2 separate regions of the Homo sapiens genome follow, and region 2 is linked to region 1. The links come from fine-mapping of genetic effects on gene expression. A gene starts in region 1. The other region holds a variant in brackets. All regions are shown on one strand. Distances are from middle to middle.

Evidence for each region.
Region 2: its variant is fine-mapped to the expression of LINC02375 in testis (GTEx, PIP above 0.99).

Annotation. Positions count from the first base shown.
Region 1 is chr12:127,334,745-127,345,182 of GRCh38, reverse strand. It overlaps LINC02375 (long intergenic non-protein coding RNA 2375), which reads left to right and starts at 5,111. Exons shown (of 3, transcript NR_110057.1): 1 at 5,111-5,214.
Region 2 is chr12:127,319,089-127,329,526 of GRCh38, reverse strand. It overlaps LINC02375 (long intergenic non-protein coding RNA 2375), which reads left to right. Exons shown (of 3, transcript NR_110057.1): 3 at 4,722-5,372. It also overlaps the pseudogene LOC100420116 and the pseudogene RNU1-104P. Among named protein-coding and RNA genes, the nearest start is that of LINC02375, 16 kb to the left of the region's middle. The variant C/T (reference allele first, on the strand shown) is at 4,749.

The sequences.
Region 1 (10,438 bases):
ATATATGTAAATATTTAAAAGAACATCTTGGTTGTAAGGAGACACAGAGAAATCAGTTGTCCACGTGAGAGATTATGGCTTAATGTGGGAGTTGGTAGAGTGGATGAAGGATGTAGACAGATTTGAGATAAATTATCATGATAAAAACTACAGAACCCCGAAGAGATCATCAGAGGAAGAAATAAACTAACCACTTTGTATGTAGAAGTACCTGGGTTTGGAGGGAGATCTCTGGGGGTTCTGGAGGTGTCAAGGAGATGGGGTGTGGCAGTCAGCTTGGGTGTGCAGAGATTTGTAATGTTCGACTAGTGCTCTTTTGTTGTTTCTGCTGTTGTCTTTCCTAATTTAAAAACACAATGAAGTCTATGTTCACTATGTTAATAAGTCCAGAAAATAGGTAGTCACTTCCCAAATGATCCTTGAGCCAAGATTTGAAAATACTGAAAGGAACTCGTGTGCTATGTGTGAGTCTGTGAGACAGAGGGCGGCGGGGGGTGGAGTAAGGGAGAGGAGGTCAGGGAGAGGGAGAATGACCCTGCACCTGGGTACTGAGAAGACATTCCAACCAACCATCAGGTTTGATATCTCAGTCTGGGATGGAATGCCATCCAATTGTTTGGAAACTTCCATTTTGTGTGTGCTTCGTGGCTTCATCCCTCTGGACAACTGTCTAAATTACAGAATGAGAATGAAGGCAGTAGGGAGCTTGGTGGACACCCCTCTCCCTCTTGCCCCGGTGGTGTGCGCATTTGCTGATCTGAGCCCTCTCCTCTCCTGTTTAGGACACTGAGGTTTTGAACACTGCCATTCTCACTGGAAAGCCTGTTTCAGTTCCTGTCAAAGTCGTGAGGGTCCAGGAGGATGGTTCTGTGGTCTATGTGTCTGAGTCTGTGGAATGCAAGTCTGCCAATGAAGATGTCATTAAGGTAAGGGGAGATTTATCTACAGAAGTCCTAAGTGTTCAGAGCTTTTTGTCGTTCCTTCTTTTGTCTCCAAGGTGTGGTTCTGACTGAGCATCCCATGCTCTAAAGGGCTGGAAACCAGAATGACCTCATGAAGGAGGAAACAGCTGACCGCAGAGACTCCCTGGAATCAGCAGGCGGCTGCAGCAGGCGATGCTGCTTCCCTCTCCCTTGAAAGGGGAATCCCTGACCTTTAATCTCCAGCAAAAAGAATTCCCTCCCTCCCTTCTATGTTCCTTCCTTCCCTCACTCCCTATATGCATGAAACTCAATGACTATTAAAAAACATTCATCCATGTGACAACTAACCTAATATAATATTATCCACTGGTTAATCCTTATATTAGGTTAATCAAAATTGAGGAAATTGAGCCATGGTACATTTCTGCTGCTTTTTTTTATTATTATTCCAATTAGCTGGATTTATGGTCCTAAATTCAGCCAGAAATCATCCCATTTTTGTTTTCTTGTTCTTTGCAGGTGTCTGAACAACCCAATTTAGTGTTCCCACCTATTTTCTTTTTTTTCTAACAAAGACCTCATGGAGAAAGGATTTAAAATTTTAGAATCATCTTTTCTCCTTTAAGTTGCTAAGAGAACCTCCAGGTTCAATCTATTCATTCATTTTAGATAAATACAATAATGCTAAGCTAAGTCCTTCATGCCATTCCACTGGCTCCTGTTTAGAGGTTCAGTGAAACTTGGTTTCAGTCTTAAGAACTTCATGGTAGGCAGAAAAGCCTTTAGGGTATTCTCCCATGGTAGAGCAGATCTGAGAGCAGTTGATTTGTTCATGTTTTAGATCACAGCTTGGTGAAGGCTTCCAGGGAGGCTGTGCCTTAAGCCAGATATGGTTTCCATAAAGAAACAATGCTGTTTCTGTGAAGTATAATTTTTAAAATAATAATGATAATAATCCTGAGGAAACAGAAATTTTATACAGTCTGTTTCCTGGGCTTGGGAAGTTAATTTTTCCTGAGATAGAAGGCGAAATAGCTTAACAACTTTATGCAGCCCTGTGCTGAGGCTCCTGGCAGGTTTAATTAAACAAATCAAGGGCCTTAAATATTTGGAGTTTAAAACGGTCTGAGCCAAGTCACAGGCAATCATCTGCTCAGGAACAAAATAAAATTGATGACTCATTTTCCTCGGTTGCCTCTGACGATATTCATTATTTAGCGTTGCCATAGCATTCATTATTACCAAAGGAGCCAAGAATTGTGGTGTTTAGAGAAAGACTGTATCTGCAGGCTGATGCTACTATGGACCAAACAAATGACTTGCCTCTGCAGGTCCTCTCCAGAGAGCCTGGTGTGGAGCCCCACAAGGTAGAGACCTCAATCTCTTGCCCTCGAGATTCCACCCTAAGAGAGGCAAATCCAAGCTCTTGGAGAGTTGGATTCCATTATGCACTGTACTTAATTGTCTCCATTCTACAGAAACATACTGAATACCCTCTCCCCAACCTGACAGATACGTCACTTTGGAAAACAGGAGTTATGTGCTGCATGGTCACTGTTGTAGCTACCTGAATATGGGAATTTCTTGACAGAAAACTGAAGCTTGATCTCCAGGAGAACATACTGAGTTTGCAAATCACCAAACATGGAGGCTGCTTCATCACCATTCTAGGTCCAGGTTCTGTTCAACTCCTGGCCTGTATAAATTGAGGGGACTTAATAAATCAGATGTATTGTAGTTTTCCAAGGTGTACTGCCCATATTAATGATGCATGTTGCCAGGACTCCTCGAGGAATGGACTCATCCTCAAAGATGTGCTTTCCTTAGCGTTGACTTTGTGATATGCCAGGTCATTGAGGACAGTGTGAACCCTCAGTAGCACCTTTTGGAGCACTCCCCAGTCTGTGGAATTTTCACTCATGTCAGTTCAGGAAATGCCGAGCAATCCCCAAGGAGGATACTCCACAGATAGCAAGGATCTTATGGAGCTTCTGCAAGAAAAGTGTGGACTGAGGAAATTCTGTGGATTGGGATATAGGGAAGGGAGAAAGTGTGAATTTGGAAAAATGAAAACTGTGGTGATATGAAGAGAATATCAGCATTTGTGAACTCAAAAGTATCTGAGACAGATCTCAATCAATTTAGAAAGTTTATTTTGCCAAAGTTAGGGATGCTCCCAGTGCCTAAGGTTGGCGAGGTACGGCTTGCTTTTATGCTTTTTAGGGAGGCATAATACATCAATCAATACCTAGAAGATGTACATTGGTTAGATCTGGAAAGGCAGGGCAATGGCAACTCGAAGTCAAGGGAGGGGGGCCAAGTTATAGGTAGATTTAAAATGTTCTAATTGGCAATTGTTTGAAAGAGTAGAGACGGGGTTTCACCATATTGCCCAGGCTGGTCTGTTGGCCAGGCTGGTCTCGAACTCCTGATCTCATGATCTGCCCGCCTCGGCCTCCCAAAGTGCTGGGATTACAGGCGTGAACCACCGCGCCCAGCCATGTTCATCCGTCTGGTCCCACCCTGCCCTCCCTCGCCTGCCCTGGCCATCCTAAAGACCTAAAACCATAAAAAAAGAAAACCTAGGCAATACCATTCAGGACATAGGCATGGGCAAAGACTTCATATCTAAAACACCAAAAGCAATGGCAACCTGAAATCAACAGAAAGGAATGTCTGGTTACTATGATAAGGAATAGAGGAGTCAAAGATTTGTCATGAAGATGAAGCCTGCAGGTATCAAGCTTCGAAAATAATAGATTATAAATGTTTCTTATCAGACTTAAGGTTTGTGTTGATGTTAATGCTGGTCAGCTTTTCCTGAATTCCAAAAGGGAGGAGGGTATCACAAGGCATGTCTGACCTGCTTCCCTATGGCCTGAACCAACTTTGGGATGCCCTTGGCTGAGGAGAGGGGTCCATTCAGATGATTTCAGGGCCTTAGGATTTTATTTTTGGCTTGCACTTTTTTTTTTTTTTTTTTTTTTGAGACAGAGTCTTGCTCTGTTGCCAAGCTGGAGTGCAGTGGTGCGATCTGGGCTCACTGCAACCTCTGCCTCCTGGGTTCAAGTGTTTCTCCTGCCTCAGCCTCCTGAGTAGCTGGGACCACGGCCACATGCCACCACGTGTATTTTTAATAGAGACGGGGTTTCACCATGTTGGCCATATTCTTTCTGAAGCTTGCTACCTGCAGGCTTCATCTGTATGATAAATCTTTGGACTCTCTACTCCTTATCATAGTAACCCAGACATTCCTTTCTGTTGATTTCAGGTCTTCAGCATTAACATCTCCATCTCTTGAACTAGTGATCTGCCCACCTCGGACTCCCAAAGTGCTGGGATTATAGGTGTGAGCCACCGCGCTGGGCCTTGGCTTGCAGTTTTGATCTCAGGATTGGTATGACTTTGGAGAAGACAGAGGACACAATTGTTAAAGAGTCCAGAATCTGGGAGAATAAAATAATTTTCAGAGACTGGAACCTCAACCTAGTCTGGCAGGTGGAAGAAGGATAAAAAGTTCTACTCTTAGTTTAAGAAAGTTTTCATTAATTTCAAAATATGCAGCATAACAGCAACATCTGTGTGAAAAAATCTTGGCATCTTTATAAATAGTAAGAGCCAATGAATCAAATGAAGAGGTCGCCATGAGGCTGATGTGATCTTCGTCAGCATTAGTCAGAGCATGGTCCCAGCACAGGCAACGCTGCTGTACTTCATGCCAAATCTGGTCCAGAAGGGTTGTGTGTGTGTGTTTGACTTTTTAAAATTTGAATCCATTTCCAGCATGCAAACATTGTTAATTTCACATCTGGATTCCGAGCTCCTCTTGAAACACCATGTGGTCAGGTTGTCCTGCGCCCATACTCCTGCCGGTCATCATCATCTGGAGTGGACCAGTTGTCTACAGAGGCTCTCCACTCCCCACCACTCCAACTCACTGTAATCTCCACCACTCCCTCTCGCCTTCCACACTGAGGGTGAGGGGCTCTTGTCATTTCTTGTCACATTTGTGCTACTGGCTTTCTGACAGTAGATTTCAGAGTGATGTGAGATATTTCTTTTACACTGGTCTCCATCAAAAATGAGCAACAGATGATAGCCCTCACTCTGTCACTCCAACAGAGAATTCTTTCTAGGTCATAAACAGAACAATGGGAAGTCAGATTGTGTTCTGCTGAAGAGTGTCCATGGGCTGAAGGCTTTTGAAATCAAATCACAGTAGAATTGCCTGAAGGAAGTGAGAGTGTATAGCCTGATGCCGAGAAGAAAAAGCCTGGGGGTAACATACAGAGTGAGAACTGACAGCTCTTTTTAAGTCTTTCAAGGGCCATCATGTGGAAGATGGAGTAGGTTTGTGCTTTTTATATTTCAACAGGGGAAGTTAAAAAGGAACCACTTTTAGCTTACTTTAAGGAAAAAGAATGCAGAGCCACTGAATTCTTTGGTTAAGCTTTCAGACAGATAATGTTGGTCCGAATCCTGGTTCTATCTTCTATGTATTTGATCTTGGGAAAAATTACTTAAATTTCCCCAAGCCCAGTTTCCTCATTTGTAAAATGGGAATGACAATGCTGAGGCGCGGAGCTACCCTTTCTAGAGATCTGTTCTAATGACAGTCCATGAAGCAGAACTGACACTCATCCAAGAAATCTTTGAAAGTGTTTTGGAGAACATCTAGGCTTTTAGAGGTTCCCAGGCCAATTGGTTTTTGTCTTTGCTTTAATTTCTTCTTGTATTTGACCCATGTGCAAATTTTATGGGGCAGTATATGGTCCTCACCATACACTGGTTTTACAGGCAGTATTGAATGGAGTCATAGATAAGAAAGATTTGGAGGAAGACAATGAAGTTAAGTTAAATTTTTCCCTCTCTATTTTATTCTTCTCTCTTTCATGTCTTCTGATAATAAACTGTTGTCAGGTGGAAATCTACAGAGAGGCTGAGCACTGATAAATAAATTATAATTAACTAGTTTAAATGTCGTATGATGCAATACCAGTGAAATTTGGGAGAGAATGAAATGATGTTTGTAAAAGGGTCACACAGTGCTTGACCTCCACTACATCAGTAAATACTACATATACATCTATGTTACATCCATATTCGTATCTTCACCTCTATCTTCTAACCTCTACTTGACTGTAGGACCCACGGAGTCTGGGCTATGTCCCTTTACTAATCACGTGTCCTCTGTGCTTGCACAGTGCCTGATATATATATGGTGCTCAATCAGTACTTTGAACATAGGAATGAATGAATCCAGAGGTGAAATAAACCCTAAGAGTGGCTGTCCAATCTTTGTTGGACAATCCCGAGCGGACTTAACATCACTGAAAATCTTCAAAAAGAGGCAGAAGGGCTTATGTGTCAAACAGATTTGGCAATGGGTGGAGACTTGGACCTGAGTTCTAAGATCCTGTGAACCAAGTCTTCCCTTGATCTTACTGAGTGATTTTAATCTAGATATACTGATTGAACATATATAATGTATAGGAAAGTGTATAAAATGTTGTGCGAGTCACAAAGATGGAATGGATATGGTTTCTGCCGTTGGGAGCTTACACTCTAATGAATATTGATAGCTAACACTGATTGAACAGTGAATATTGATAGCTAACACTTATTATGTGCCAGCTGCTACAAGTGTTGATCCATTTAATTCTCATAACAGTCCTTTGAGGTAGAAAATACCACCTTTCACAGTCCATAGATAAGGAGATGTAGATGGAGGTGTAGATGGTTTAATTAAAGTCATCTAAGGCCACTCAGCTAGTGAGTGTAGCAATCATATATTCAATCTGAAAAGACTGGCTCCAGAGCCTGTAATCTTAACCATGGAGAATTATTGAGCTGTTATTCCTTGTAGTTGTGCAGGACATACTTAGGGGAGGTTCTTATGAGCTAGTATCAAAATGCCATCCCTATGGTCCCCATCAGAGGAATCAGTTGGTAGTGGACTTGTTCCAAAGTATTTGTAAAATACTTTGTTAAAAAAATAGCAGGAAGACATGTTTTCCTAGCTTTCTCAAGTTTCTTTGTACATCTTCACAGGAAGGACAGAAAATGTGGTTTTTAGAGTAAGATTCTCTTGTAATCTTTGGGGATCTATCTTTCTAATATGTGGGCTCCTGTTTTTATTGGATTAGTAATTGTATTTTTGTCAATGAATGATGGTTCCCAGAACCCCAGAAGTCCATCATGCATCATCAACAGGAGATGAGCATCTTTATTCTTGGAAAGAAAAAAAAACATAGAATCATGCTGGTCTCAAAGATGGTGCCCTCCTTTTTACCCTGCAGTAATTCAGTTTCTCAGCTTCCAGCGTCAGCTGGACTAGCAATGAGGAGATTCTAGAGGGCTAGTAAAAGGACATTAGTGTGCAAAAGCCTTCCTATCCCCAGGGAGACATCTTGTTTTCAAACTTAGCCTTCCAGTGGTTAAGGCAGAATATCTTCTGATGGATGAGCTCTCAAGGAAATCTAAGGTTCTCCTGCTGCTTGTTTGGCAGTGTGTGGAAAGCTGGTTACTAAATAGAACCCAATGTCACCTCTGGTGAAGATCAGCAGTTTTGATAGAGCAGCTGCATTTCCGGAGCTAATTTTCAGCAGCTACAAAAGGGCTCTGTGATGAGGTTTCCTCAAGTTTTTAAATTTTCAGATTAAAATATGGAAGGAAATATATTTTTTTTGAATTAGTCCTTTAGAGAGGCACATTTGAACTGCGGTCATTGAGCTAAAGGAATCATTATTCAGGTGGAACAGAGTAGGACAGGTGTGATAGGTAGTGAGATCTGGCAGGGATAACCTGAATTCCCTCACTAGCTATTTGTGGGCATTCTGTTTGCCTGTTTGCAAATAACAGAAATCCAAATATAACTTGCTTGAGCCACTGAAGGAAAGTGTAGTGGGCAAGTAACTAGAAGAGGTAATAATGACTTTAAGTTGGATCCAAAGGCTCCTTAGGATTTGGTTACTCTCCATCTCTTATTTCTGATATCCCCATATGTTGTCTTTATTCTCAGATGGATTATTTCTATATAGTCACCCGCAGCAGCTAAGAGGTTTACATCATTTCACATTCAGGTTCACAAAAAGGAAGATTCTGTTCTCTAGTGCTTCCAACAATATTTCCAGGTTTAAAGAACACTGGGTCTCATGCCCATGACCATTTTTGATCTGGTAGAACTGTGGCCATATAATAAAATAGGTGGATTGGCCATGCCTGGGTCATGTACCCACCTCTGCAGCTGGAGGTGGGATTGGCTTAACTTGAAGCACATGGTCAAGGAGTGAGGATTGATTCTACAGGAAAATTTTCATCTTCCATGAGATGCTCCCTGTACTGTCAAAACACTAGGACCTACTTAGGTCTCAAAATAAGATGAGGTTTTGTTCATGGTTTTCCCATGCTCATGCTATTCCCTGCACTGGGAATCCTGTTCCCACTCCTTCACCTGGATACCTCCCAGTCACCCTGAGACTTGGCTAAAGTGCTCCCTGTTCTGTGCAGCCACCTTCCTGTTGCTCTCCCTGCCAAGGAATCTCACCTCTGTGTTTCCATTGTCCTGTACAGACACATTAGGGACTCAGCACTTTGTATGTCTTTGTGCATGTTGATGCATGTGCCCCTTGGAGGTAGGTGCCATGCCTTGTAAATATTTCTATCCCCATGGTCTATTCAAATACAGTAATAGCAACAAGGACAACACCGTCATTACAACACCCAGTGGTACTGTGCCAGAACTTGTTCTACTTTGTAAAAATACATTACAACATTCAATCTGTACAGCCTTCCATGAAGTAGATGTATTATCCCATTTTTCAGCTCAGGAAACTGAAGCACAGAAAGGATTTTAAGTGTGTGTACTCAGTATATTTTGAATAATAAACATTAGTCTATTACATGTCCAAATTCACAGTACCTAAAAATGGACAAAAAGTTCCTTCTTACTGCTATCTCATTTAAAAACAGATGTTTCTGGAAATGTAGATTTTATGCAAGATTTTTGACTTGAAAATCTCATTCAATTGAATAACATTGTGTGTTTGGCAATGTATAGAGAACTGGTTACCTTTTTAGTTGGAAAGGGCCTATGAATACATTCTGCCTGGGGACTGTCAGTCTGATCTACCCCAAAAGTTGTGCACTGTAGGATCAGGTAAACAAAATAGAAGCTAGAGGCTCAGCCACAGGCAAGGGTGGAATTGAGAGTGTTTCTGAGGAATCCACAGGTATTGATGAAGAGAAAGAAATGGGTTCAGAACAGACTCTTTGCACTGGCTTATCTGGAAAAGGTCCTTGTCTTCTATGGGCTTCCAAAGAAACCCTCTGACTGATTTGAATTTTATTTGGAAGAACATATAGAAAAACTCGAAAGAAGTTTCAGGCTATTTCTTCTTTTTCCTTTAGCAATGATTGGCAAAAATTCCTACAAAAAAACACTGTCATTCTATTTCTGTGCATAGATTTCTTTCCTTTGCTCATCACTAGGAGCCAGACAGCTAAGAATAAGTTGTCAGGCAGTTTGGATGTTATTGCTTAATTTTGTCCTTTATGCTGGTAATTTGGAATTTTATTGTTCCATTCTAATTAGATATGTGCCATGTTTTTCCTGTTGGCCAGGAAAAAATATTGCTGCATTCTCAACCTTTTGTTCCTGTCAGCTTCACTATGATTCCAATATTAATTAGATTGTTTGTTAATTTCTGTCTTTGGCATCTCTAATTAAGAACTAACAATCTGGAATTGTTTCTGCATAATTCAGGGAAACCTTGGAATGAGCCAGTGTAAACCTGCATGCCTCCCAGCTCCACCTGCCCAGTAAACATGGCCATGTGCTTCCTTCCCTCCTCCCCTGGAAGCCTTTCATCTGCTCTTTCCTCAAGGCCCTAGAGTCTTGTGTTTCTCAGAGCCATATTTGTTTTGTGTATATTAGGAGAGAAGGTGACTCTCATTGATGTTTTGGGGCTTGGTTCACACTTTAAACTCCTGCCATGCAGCTTTGATGGTGGGCAGGGAACATCAATTCTCTTTACCATAAAGAAGAACTGCTTTGTGGAATTGGGACTTGTTAATGAGTCAGAGCAGCAGAGATAAGACATACGTGGCTCTCAATCCTAGCATGTGCCCATGGCAGACATCACTAATCAATACCAGCACTCCTTCCTGCTAAACCCTAGATTCTCTCCCAAGCAGAGCTCCTTTGAGCCACAACTATAAATTGACTTGCCTTGGCCAGTGAGATGAACTTATTTCCTATTTCTAGTAGACCTTCTCACAGCCAGCAGAAGTTTTTAATAAGGATTGAAACATGATGTCAATGAGGCAAAGGTATGTATGAGGAAGTCTGATATACTGGAGGAAAACAAAGAGAACTCTTTTCTGTTATGATTCTGGAGCAAGTGATAGGGAAGTCTTTGTATTTGCTTTTCCCCTTTTCTCGTCTCAAAGACAAAAACTCAGCTGCTGATTTTTACACTTTGATTTCACAATTCACAGCATTCTTTTTATAAAAG
Region 2 (10,438 bases), 16 kb after region 1:
ATGATATAAGCAATACGAAGAGTCTAAGTAATGCATCAATGTTGTAAATATAAGTGTGCACAGTAGCACACACAGCAAATTAGATACAGGAAAATAGTGTAATGGAGACAAAGAGTAACCAGAGGAGGGTGCCAAGTTTAAATTAGAAATGGCTCAAGGAATGTATACTGAGGAGTGGCATTTGAGATGAGGTCCTGTATCATTTATAATCCTTTTGGTGGCAAGTAACAAAACCACATAGATCCAGATGGCTTTACCAACAAGAAGGGCATCTCATAGTGGGGAGGTTCCAGGCAGCTGGTCCAGCAGCCCCTCTAGGTCATCAAGTCCCGAGTTCCTCTGTCTTTCTGTCCATCTGAACTCGCAGGGTCAGCCTGGCCCATTTTGGGCTCCCTCAGGGCTCTGGGATCTCTGGGGCAGTTCCTGTCGTCATTTCCTATGCGACAACATCCTGTAGGAGGAGGAGGCACCACTTCCCATGAGTCTCTTTGACCAAGTAGGCCTTTCCCAGAAGCCCTGCCGTGGACTTCTCACAGCTCATTGGCCAGAGTAATAGCACATGCTTTCCCCATAAATCAATCACTGGCAAGGAGGATGGGGGTTTAATTACTGAGTTAGAGGGGCACATGGTGAATGGAGGGTTATCTGAAGAAAACCTTATTACTATTAAAAGAGAGTGTGAGAGTGTGTGTGTGTGTGTGTGTGTGTGAGTTGGGCAGGGGGCTGGTGTGTGGTCACATGGCTACTAAGAAACACTTTTTTTTTTTTTAAGATAATGCATATCCCATAAGAAATAACTCAAATAATAGTCACGCAGAATTGCCAAAGCCTCTCACTTAGTTTCATTTTTCACTTATTTTTCCATGTGGGCTATCTCTCAATTCCTGAAAGCTGAGGCAAATTTAAGTCTGCATGTGCTCTGAAAGAATGCCGAGGGTCACTGCAATGTGATTTCATTTCTTATGTACAGAAAGGGCCTCAAGATTTCTAAAGTCGATATGTTCCTGACAATCGGATGTGATTCAAAATGATTTGAAGTAAAATTGGTGGTGAGGGCGGGGAGCGAGAGGGAGTATATATGGTCAAATCAAAATTTTCCACAAATGCAGGAATGTAGAGGTCTTCTCTACAGGAGATAGGATCAGGAAGTCCTTGTAGTAGGGGACAACCACCAGAACAATGGAGAAGGTGAAGAACTTCCTAATGCATCCATTGCAGCCTTCTTGTTTGTAGCAAGCCCGGCTATTTTCATGGAGGTCTGCATACCACATGCAAAGAGCACATCAAGTCCAGGCAGATTTGGGAAGCTTCTCCGAGGAAGTGACTCGCGCTTAGATAGGCAGAAAGAATAAATGCTGAGCGAATAAAACAACCAAGGCAGTCATGGAAGTGTCTGTTCCAGGAAGAGGGAATCACATGGCCAGAGGCCCTGAGGTTAATAGTTATGGCACAGCCCCTGGAGATACTAAAAGTACCTCCGTGGGGCTGGATCATTGAGTGACCAAAAGAAGGTGGGAGAGGAGATTTGGAAATAGATAGGGCTAATAACGGAGACTGAGTCAGAGATCCTGAAAGCCAAGGGAAACCATCAAAGGGCTGTAAGCAGGAGACGATTAGATCATATTTGCATACACAATCTCTCAAGGAAGAGTAGGGCAGTGTGGGAAGAGGGGATGTGAAGAGAGCAGTTTTGAAGTTGTGGCAAATGTCCAGGTGGGAAGTGATGGAGGTCTGGGCTAGTATAATAGCAGCGAAGAGAAATTCGTAGGCACAAAAGACACCTAGGAGTAAAACCAAGAGAACTTGAAGTGTTGCATGTCGGTGGTGAAGAACATGGGTGGAATTAAAGAAGACATCGTGATGTTCAATTTGTTCTGCTGGATAAAAGGCAATGTTAGTTATTGAGATGGAAGACTGTGCTGTGGGGGAAATAGGAGATCGTGAGTTTGATTTTGTATGTTTGGCCGCTAAGAAACTATTGAGCCTTTCATCTGATGATGTCAAGAGGCACATGCATCTGGAGCTCAGAAGGGAGGTCTGAGCTGTAAATAGACACTTGGGTGAGGAAGAGAAACATCAAGAACAGTCCCAGTTTGCAGCTTGCTAAAGAGGCTGCATGGCGGCACCACTTGCTGAGATGGAGAACTCAGCCAGCAACCAGTCTGACGTTGCACCCGTCAACGATGTGTGTGATCTTGAGCCAGCTATGCCACCTCGCTGGCTTCAGTTTCTTCATCTGTAAAATGACATTGCGGGCCCCTTACAGTTTTATGAATCTGTGGTGAATTGATGGCTTATTTTGCATCCTCCTTCCTCTTTCCTTCTACACACATAAATGCATTTTCCTGATGGTCCAGGAGAGAAATTCAGCAATATTTTAATAGCTTATCTGGAAGATGTGAAGTGAAATGGAGGCTTAAATTGTCTAATACTTAACCTGCCTACTTACGCACGTTAAAGAGGCTAATCCTAAGTCCCGAATAAAGAGAATGTAATGAAATACCACAGTCTCACTTCTTTTCCACAAGATTACAGTTTAATGGGGGCAAAACATTGATATTTCCAGTGCATTTTGTGAATATTTTCTTATCAAGATTTTAATCTAGTGCAAAGCTCTCATGATTAACAAAAAAGTGATCCCCTTTATGGGTTGAATAAAGTGATTTTTTGGTAACACATGGCCACCTTTTATATATTTTCCAATATGGTACAAGAATTTTTGTTTGATTAACAGTAGGTTGAGCAGACCTGTTAAAGAACACACACACACACACACACACACACGCAAACACATATGTGGCAACAAAGCTTATGTTACTTTATGAAATTATATGTATGGTTTTACTTGTCAGTATTTTGTAATACCAAATAGTTTTCTTGGTAAGACAAATACTTTTTAGTATTTGTCACTAATCAGTGCCTACAAATTACCTTTTGTACAAGTCCTGTTCTTCTGGTTGTCTTGGTGTCTTATAAATCAGAACTATTGTGTCTCATGAACTTTCACTATTTTCAATTTTTGCTGGTGCTTTTCCTGTTGATGTATCTCAAGGTTCTACCTCCTCCCCAAAGGTTTCTAGCAACTGTGAATCCATTTTATGAATGGGAAGGAAATGAGGCACATGGTGACCTTCACCTGCAGCACCTTCCCTCTCAGTATGAGGCCACCATCTGGACGCCGAGACTCCTTTGGCAGATTGAGATCTGGAACATGGAGTGAGCTACAACAAGGGCTGGAGAATTTTAGTGGCCTCCAACAGAAGCTGAGAAACCAGAGAGGAGACTGTGGATCTGATGCTCCTGGGACTCAGAACCTTTAGAACTCTTTATAAATGGGATAAAACTGGCTCTCCGGGGCTCAGACCCTAGGAAAGAATAATCCACAATAGTTAACAATGGTCTGGGCTTGGTCAGATGGATCTGACTTGCATATTTACTAGCACTTTGATGTGAAAAAATTAAAATGGGAAGAATAATCGTGTCTATCTCATAGGATGGTTATTAAGTTTAAGTAAAATAATGCAATACTTAGAAGCACTGAGCACAAAACCGGGCCTTTAGACGACAGCTGTAGTTACTTTTATTCTAATTTCCCTATTGTTCTTTCCTGTGTTATTCATTTTCAGCTATTTGTGGATGCCAACCAAAGTCCATAGACTTCAGTACATTGGGTGAGGGTGTGGAGTCTGGAGTCAGACTGCCTGGTGTTACTCCTGGCTCTGACCCTTATACCTGCATGACTCCAGACTTGTTATTTAACTTCTGTTTCTCAGTTTCCTCACCTACAAATTGAGGATGAGAATTATACTTCCTAGTTGTCCAGAGAATTCAATGAAATATATCTGCGAAGCACTTAAAATCATACCTGGCAAAAAGTAAGCACTAAAAAATTATTGAAAATTTCTAGAAATTACTATTGTATTATTGCAAGTATGCTAAAATACTGAATCAAATATATTCCTGATGTATTATAGATCAAACATAGCACAGGTTTTTTCCAGCTTACTTGGTAGTCCACAGTGGGCATTCCTGAGTATGAGGTAACTCTCCTCAATGGCTGCAGAGCCCCAGAGGCCCCAAGAGCCTTCCATCCTCAGGCTCTGCCATCATCTTGGGCTTTATCGTTGTCTGGGTCTGGTAAAGAGAGCATGGAGGAGGCAAAACTACTTCTTAAAATCTTTTGGTCCAGAGGCAGCAGGAATTACATGAATTATTTTTATATTTCTCCAATTCTATCGGTTAACATGTCTCATGTGACTATGTCTACATGCACGGGGTGCTAGGGAATGTAAGCCAAAGCAAGGCAGCACATTTGGCAAAGGAGGCCCATTTAAAAACAAACAATAAACAAAAAAGCACTCAAATTATAGATAGATGATCATACCTATGACAGAACAGCTACCTCTCCACCAAAATCATTCTTCCTCTTCCTTGTCTTGGGTAAGAACAAGGAGAAGAAAAAGAAGATGATGAAGATGGAGGAGGAGGAAGGGAAAGAGTAAGAAGGGGGAATGAGAAGAAAGGAGAAAGAGGAGGAGACAGAAGAGGAACTAACTGATGGTGTCGTTAAAGACCTTTTGAGACTTCATCGGCCACTGAGAAGAAGGTGGCATTTGAGGGTTATGGGGCCTGATCAGCCTCAAGCAGGTTATTTATATCATGCTTTGGCTTCTTTCCAGATCACCAGTGTTTGTTTCAGTGATGTTTTCTTTTTCTTGCAGAGGACAGAAGCCCAAAACTAAGCTGTA[C/T]AGTCAAAAACGTCTAGCTGTTTCTTGTAGCAGATTGTGCCAGTAAGCGTCACTGAAGAGTAATTTCAAGGGCTGGTGAAAATATAAGATAAAACACTGATTACAGGATGACAGGTTTTCTCTGCTCAACAATCTTTGAATTATTCAGAAAACTTTGCTTCCAGAGTGGTATATTAATAATACACCTAAGCAAATATTTTGTTGCTTAAGCTGAAAGGCATTTTCTCCTTGAAGGGAAAGCTTCTGAAGATGGCAGTAGATTAACATACCCAAATATCTTGATATCCTCAATAGGAAGAAAGTCAAGTTAAGTTTCCTGATCTAAAGAGTCCAGGAAATTAAATTCTCTCTATGTTCTGTTTCTGAAGTACTGCAGAAACTGCTCAAGATGGAAGGATACCAGAGAAGAAAAACATTGCTCAATGTTTAAAACTTATTTTATTTTTTGAAAAAAGAAACATAATAACTTAGTCCAAAATCAAACAACATAAAAAGTATACATTGAAAAGTTTATCCTCACCCTATCTACTTCCAGCAATTTCCTTCCAATTCTATCTGTAGTATTTTTTCATTTTTCTTCTTGTTTTTTTTAAATAAAATAAAATAAAATAATAATGCACACTATTATACCTTTTCCTTTTTCATTCTTGCACTGAATGGAGTACGCTGTATACACCATGCTGCTCTTGTTCGGTTTTCTCATTCCACAGTAAATCCCGGAGGCTTTCCATGCCACGGCCTAGAAAGCAACCTCATTATTTCACAGCCACTGTGTGTTCCAGGGTGGGTTTGTTCCTTAGGTGTTCCTGAGCATTTTATTCCACTTTTCCTGTTAAAAGCTTGCTTTCCCTTTACCCCACTCAAAGCAAAACACAGTCATGTCACTGAGATGTGGTCCGCCCTTCACCGTTTCCAAATTGCTCTGATTTGATGCTTAGATAGTAGCTTTGTGAAGCTGAGAATGAATACCCTCTATTCCAGATGCAGAGCCTGAGGCTCAGAGGAATCCTACCATGCCTGAGGTGTCTGCATCCAGTGGCAGAGGCAACTACAAAGCTCCCCTAACCTCCCCACACCACCACCATGCCTCTGCTCTCAGGGACATCACAGGAAGGACCCAAGTAGCTGATGGTCCCTCTGTTGGCAGCTTCTTCAATCCCCCCTCACACGCAAGGAACTTGAACTGAGATATCATCCATGCTGTTTAATTCCTGGATGGTTTTGAGTAGGAGATCAGGCCTTTCACACACGTGATTCTACTTGCTTTGGTTCAAGATTCTATTAATAATAGAATGGGCAGGAAACCACATTGCAAGGTCAGCTCTTCAGGTTAAAAATAGTGAGTTTGCCAATATTCAGCCTTCCAAGAAAAGGGGAGAATAGAAGTGAGGAACCCATTAAACACACATGAAATTATAACTATTATTATGTTTTAATATTTTTGTAATATCTCCCTCCCGTTTTCTAAAATATAAGCTTCCCAGGCACAGAGGACAAATCTGTTTCACTCACTACTGCTTCCCCAGAGCATAGAACCTGGCCTGGCACTCAGTAGGGCTCATGGAAAATATCTATTGATCAGTTCATGATAAAGAGGAGGAAGCAAAGTTCTTTGGGCCTTCAAGAAGAATGTTTGCTGGATCCGGGTGGCAGCCCACAGACGCCAGGAGTGCCCTGCACATATATGGGGCTGGGAGGACAGCACGGGTCTCCATCACCCTCTCTTGGGACCACCTGTGTCCGTGCACCTCTTTTCATATTCCTGTTGCCTGTACATTGCAGCCAGAGCCCTGAAGCTGTGCTTCCTCCCTGGGCTGGGCCGTGGTAGGTGGGGAATGGGTTGTATGAGAGTTTTTGCTCCACATCTCTCATCTCTCTCTATTGCCATCTATACCTGGTAACTGAAAAATGGCATGCCTTTCCTGGGTTAGAAGAAGTAATTAAAAGTAATTTTTCATTGCTGGTTACTGAACAGGAAGCCTCTAAGTCCATTAATGAAACAGAGAGGGAAGTCTGGTTTGTACGAATGAAGCTTTCGCCTCTAAAGGCAAAGGAACCACTGAGAATGGCACATTTGGAGGAAGATTGTGCACATTTTGCTTTTTAAGATGGATGTCACACTGCAAAAATATCACAACAATGCAAGATAGTTAAAATAGTTAAACATATTTTTAAGTGTATTTCCGCCTAGTGCTATAGGCCTTGGAGATGCAAAGGTGAATAAAAGTGACATAGAGTTCACAGGTGTCTACAGAGTTAGGGTACAAAACAAAGATATGATATTGAATATGGTATAATATGTCTTAAAATAGACCTCTGATATGATTTGGCTGTGTCCCTACCCAAATCTCATCTTGAATTGTAGCTCTCATAATTCCCACGTGTTGTGGGAGGGATCCAGTGGGAGGTAATTGAATCATAGGGGTGGGTCTTTCCTGTGCTGTTCTCATGATAGTGGAGAAGTCTCATGAGATCTGGTAGTTTTATAAAGGGGAGATCTGGTCTCATGAGATCTGGTTTTATAAAGGGGAGTTCCCCTACATAAGATCTCTTGCCTGCTGCCATGTGAGATGTGACTTTGCTCTTCCTTCACCTTCTGCCATGATTGTGAGGACTCTCTGGCCACACAGCCATGGAACTGTGTGTCGATTAAACCTCTTTTCTTTATAAATTACCCAGTCTTGGCTATATCTTTATTAGCAGAATCAGAACAGACTAATCCAACCTGTTTTACTTCCATTTATATGGCAGCTCTAAAACTTCATTTATCCACGTACCACTTTCAAGATACTTCCTTTTTCAAATGCCACCTTTATTATTGTTCCTGTTAAGCTCTTTAATCCTTACTTAAATTAGGGTGCTTCATCTTACTGACACACAAAAAATAGTACAATCCACCATGTAGTAAAAAGTCAAATAAAAATGAATTTGGAAAAAATAAACTGATACTATTAAAAATCTGAGTAGATACTATGGTCTGCCTATGTCTATGAGTTTGTCTTTATTAACTAATGAAGAACAGCAAGGGTCAGAGAACTGTTGAAGACATTCCAGCACTGAACAGAGAATTTCTCCTAATATCATGGAAAGGATTGAGCTCATAACTTTTCCTTCTGTTTTTAAATGCTATGTTCCTGCTACCTATAATTTTTTCATTGAAAATTATTTGTTTTACCCATTGAAATATTCACCTTGCACTTTGGGAAACCCAAATTGCTCTTACTATGCTGGCGAAAATTTTCCTATCACTTAGAGCTGCAGCTCTAAGGAAGGAAGAAAGAAGCCATGATTGGCAACAGGAAAGACACATTTCAGATGTTTTAGCAGTAATACAAGTAAATGGTTCTCGAAGTGTGCAATAGACAAGCCTCGCCCTGGGAAAACCACCTTCATGATCATGGTATCTTCCCTTCCAGGTAAGTGTAATTCTCAGACCTTACAGGGAGGCAGAACAGCATATTGTAAAGAAGTTGGGTTTCAAAAGTGAAATGGAGCTGGATCCCAATGTGCTAATTCACAATTATCTGGGCCACCCATAAGCCTCTCTGAGCCTTGGTTTCTTCATGCAAAAATAAGGATGTATTTCATACCTGTTGAGAAGACGAATGGATTTAGCTATAGAAAGGAAGAGGTCACAACAGGTGGTCTACGTGGGCACAGACCCTGCTTCTGCAGATGACCAGCTGTGTGGCCCTGGATGGGTGGCCTCTCTCTGCCATGCCTTGGTTTCCTTATCGGTAATATCAGAGAAATAATTCAACCACACTCTTTGAAGTTCTGTGAAGCTTACGTGGGTTGAACATGCATGGCTGTCCTGTGCTGCTGGGGAAGTTGATGTCAGCTCTCTTTCTCCCATGAGCACATGCAGCAGGGCACCCAACAGGTCTCACTCAGGACCCATGAGTCACTCCTCTTTCTCCCCTGCCACAATCCCCAGCTACTAAACACACAGACTAGGCAGTGGCAACCAAACAAAGTGTTCTCATAAAGGGACACAGGACAGCTACTTCTTGAGGGGAAGTTTCTGGAGTTGCAGAGCCAGAGAGGCTGTTTCAGGGTGGGTTCTGGACAGGTGAAGGTCAGAGTAGAGCATGTGCCAGAGTGAGAGGAAGGGCTGGAACCCCGAGGAAGGAAGAGAGAAACCAAGATAGGCAACACGAGAGACACATTTCAGATGTCTTAGCAGTAATACAAGTAGCTTAGCTCAGAGAGCAGTGATTTTTGATTAGGGCAGGATGGTGGATGGAGGGGGTCCTCTGGCAACCTTAGGACCATAAGCTCAGGAAGCTGCTTCTGTACAGACTAGAAGGCCTCTGCCAACAAAGGTGATGGTGCAGCAGCCCACACAATGATCATTACTGTCCCATAGTAAACATCTACCTGCCTGCTGGATGGACTATGAGCAGAAGAGATATGAACACCATTCCTTTAAACAGTTTATTGCAATTCTGCAATTTTTGAAACATTAATCCCAGTTGATGGGAAAATGTTATTCTTTGAGCATTCAGTATTTCTAAATGGGCTGTTTTGAGTTATTGTCCCTTAATTAAATGAAGTTCTCAGAAAATGTACTGTTATTGTTATCATATATTTTTACCAATAAGGAAAGAAAATGGACCAAGATGATACTTTCTGAACTCCCTTTTAAATTGGCAAGTGTAATGGAATCGTAGCATAACACTTTCCTAAGGAATTCCCACAAGCATATGCATTGAGCTGAGGGCTGGGAGAGCACTTTGTTGGGAGCCCTAAGTTAAGGGATTCATGGTGCTTATGAGGAACAGAGATGCATGAGCCTCCTCGCCTACATTTCAGGTCTTCTTGCCACTCTTGGACTCCATCCTGGCTGAGAAGACGGTGATTGTCCTGGATGACTGAGTCACCATCGCAGAGCTGGGAGTGCAGCTCATGGCTGGCATGTCTCTCTCCCTGCAGCCTCAACCAGCAGACAAAAGGGCCATAGTCTCCACAGCCACTGCCCTGGATGTTCTTCATTCCCCACAGCAGGTGAGCGTTCCAGGGGCCCTGCATCCCTGGTCAGTGGAGATGACTTCTCTCTCAGTTAGCACATCCTGCGAAGGAGAGCAGGACAGCCCTCATGCCTAGGACTGGGGATTCTTGAAGCTTCTTGCTTCTTATCCAGGCTGCTCTGTCTCTGAGAAAAGTATTCAGTGGCTTAGACACATTTCCTCTTATGTGCTTTTCCACGCCGACCGTATCCCCATACACCATTTGCTTTGCCCTGGGCTTATCTGTGCTAGGCACAGCCTGCTGCTAGATCATGACCAAAGGATCACATGTTTTTGCTTTTGCCAAAGCAGTTGGTTTGCAATGCTTAGAAATTCCATTTCAGCTACTTGAACAAGCATGGCTAATAGATACTAAATTGCTACTGTTTACAGCAATTATTGTCAACTCTGAAACTCTCTCTCGTCTTTAAACTTGCACAAATCATTTTTGAAGATACCAGGGCCACTGTGCCATTCAGACCAGCCAGCCTCATAATACATCTTCCTGTGTCCTTCCTGCCAGTGCCTGTTTTGCTTCATCAGCACCAGCTTCCTAATGAAGAGCATTCAAAGTAATATTATCTTGAACACCTGATTAGTTGCACCTGAAATTGATTCAGATAAATTGCCTGATCTTTATAAATGTTTTTAAAAAGGTCAAAGTCAAATTCTGTTGTACGC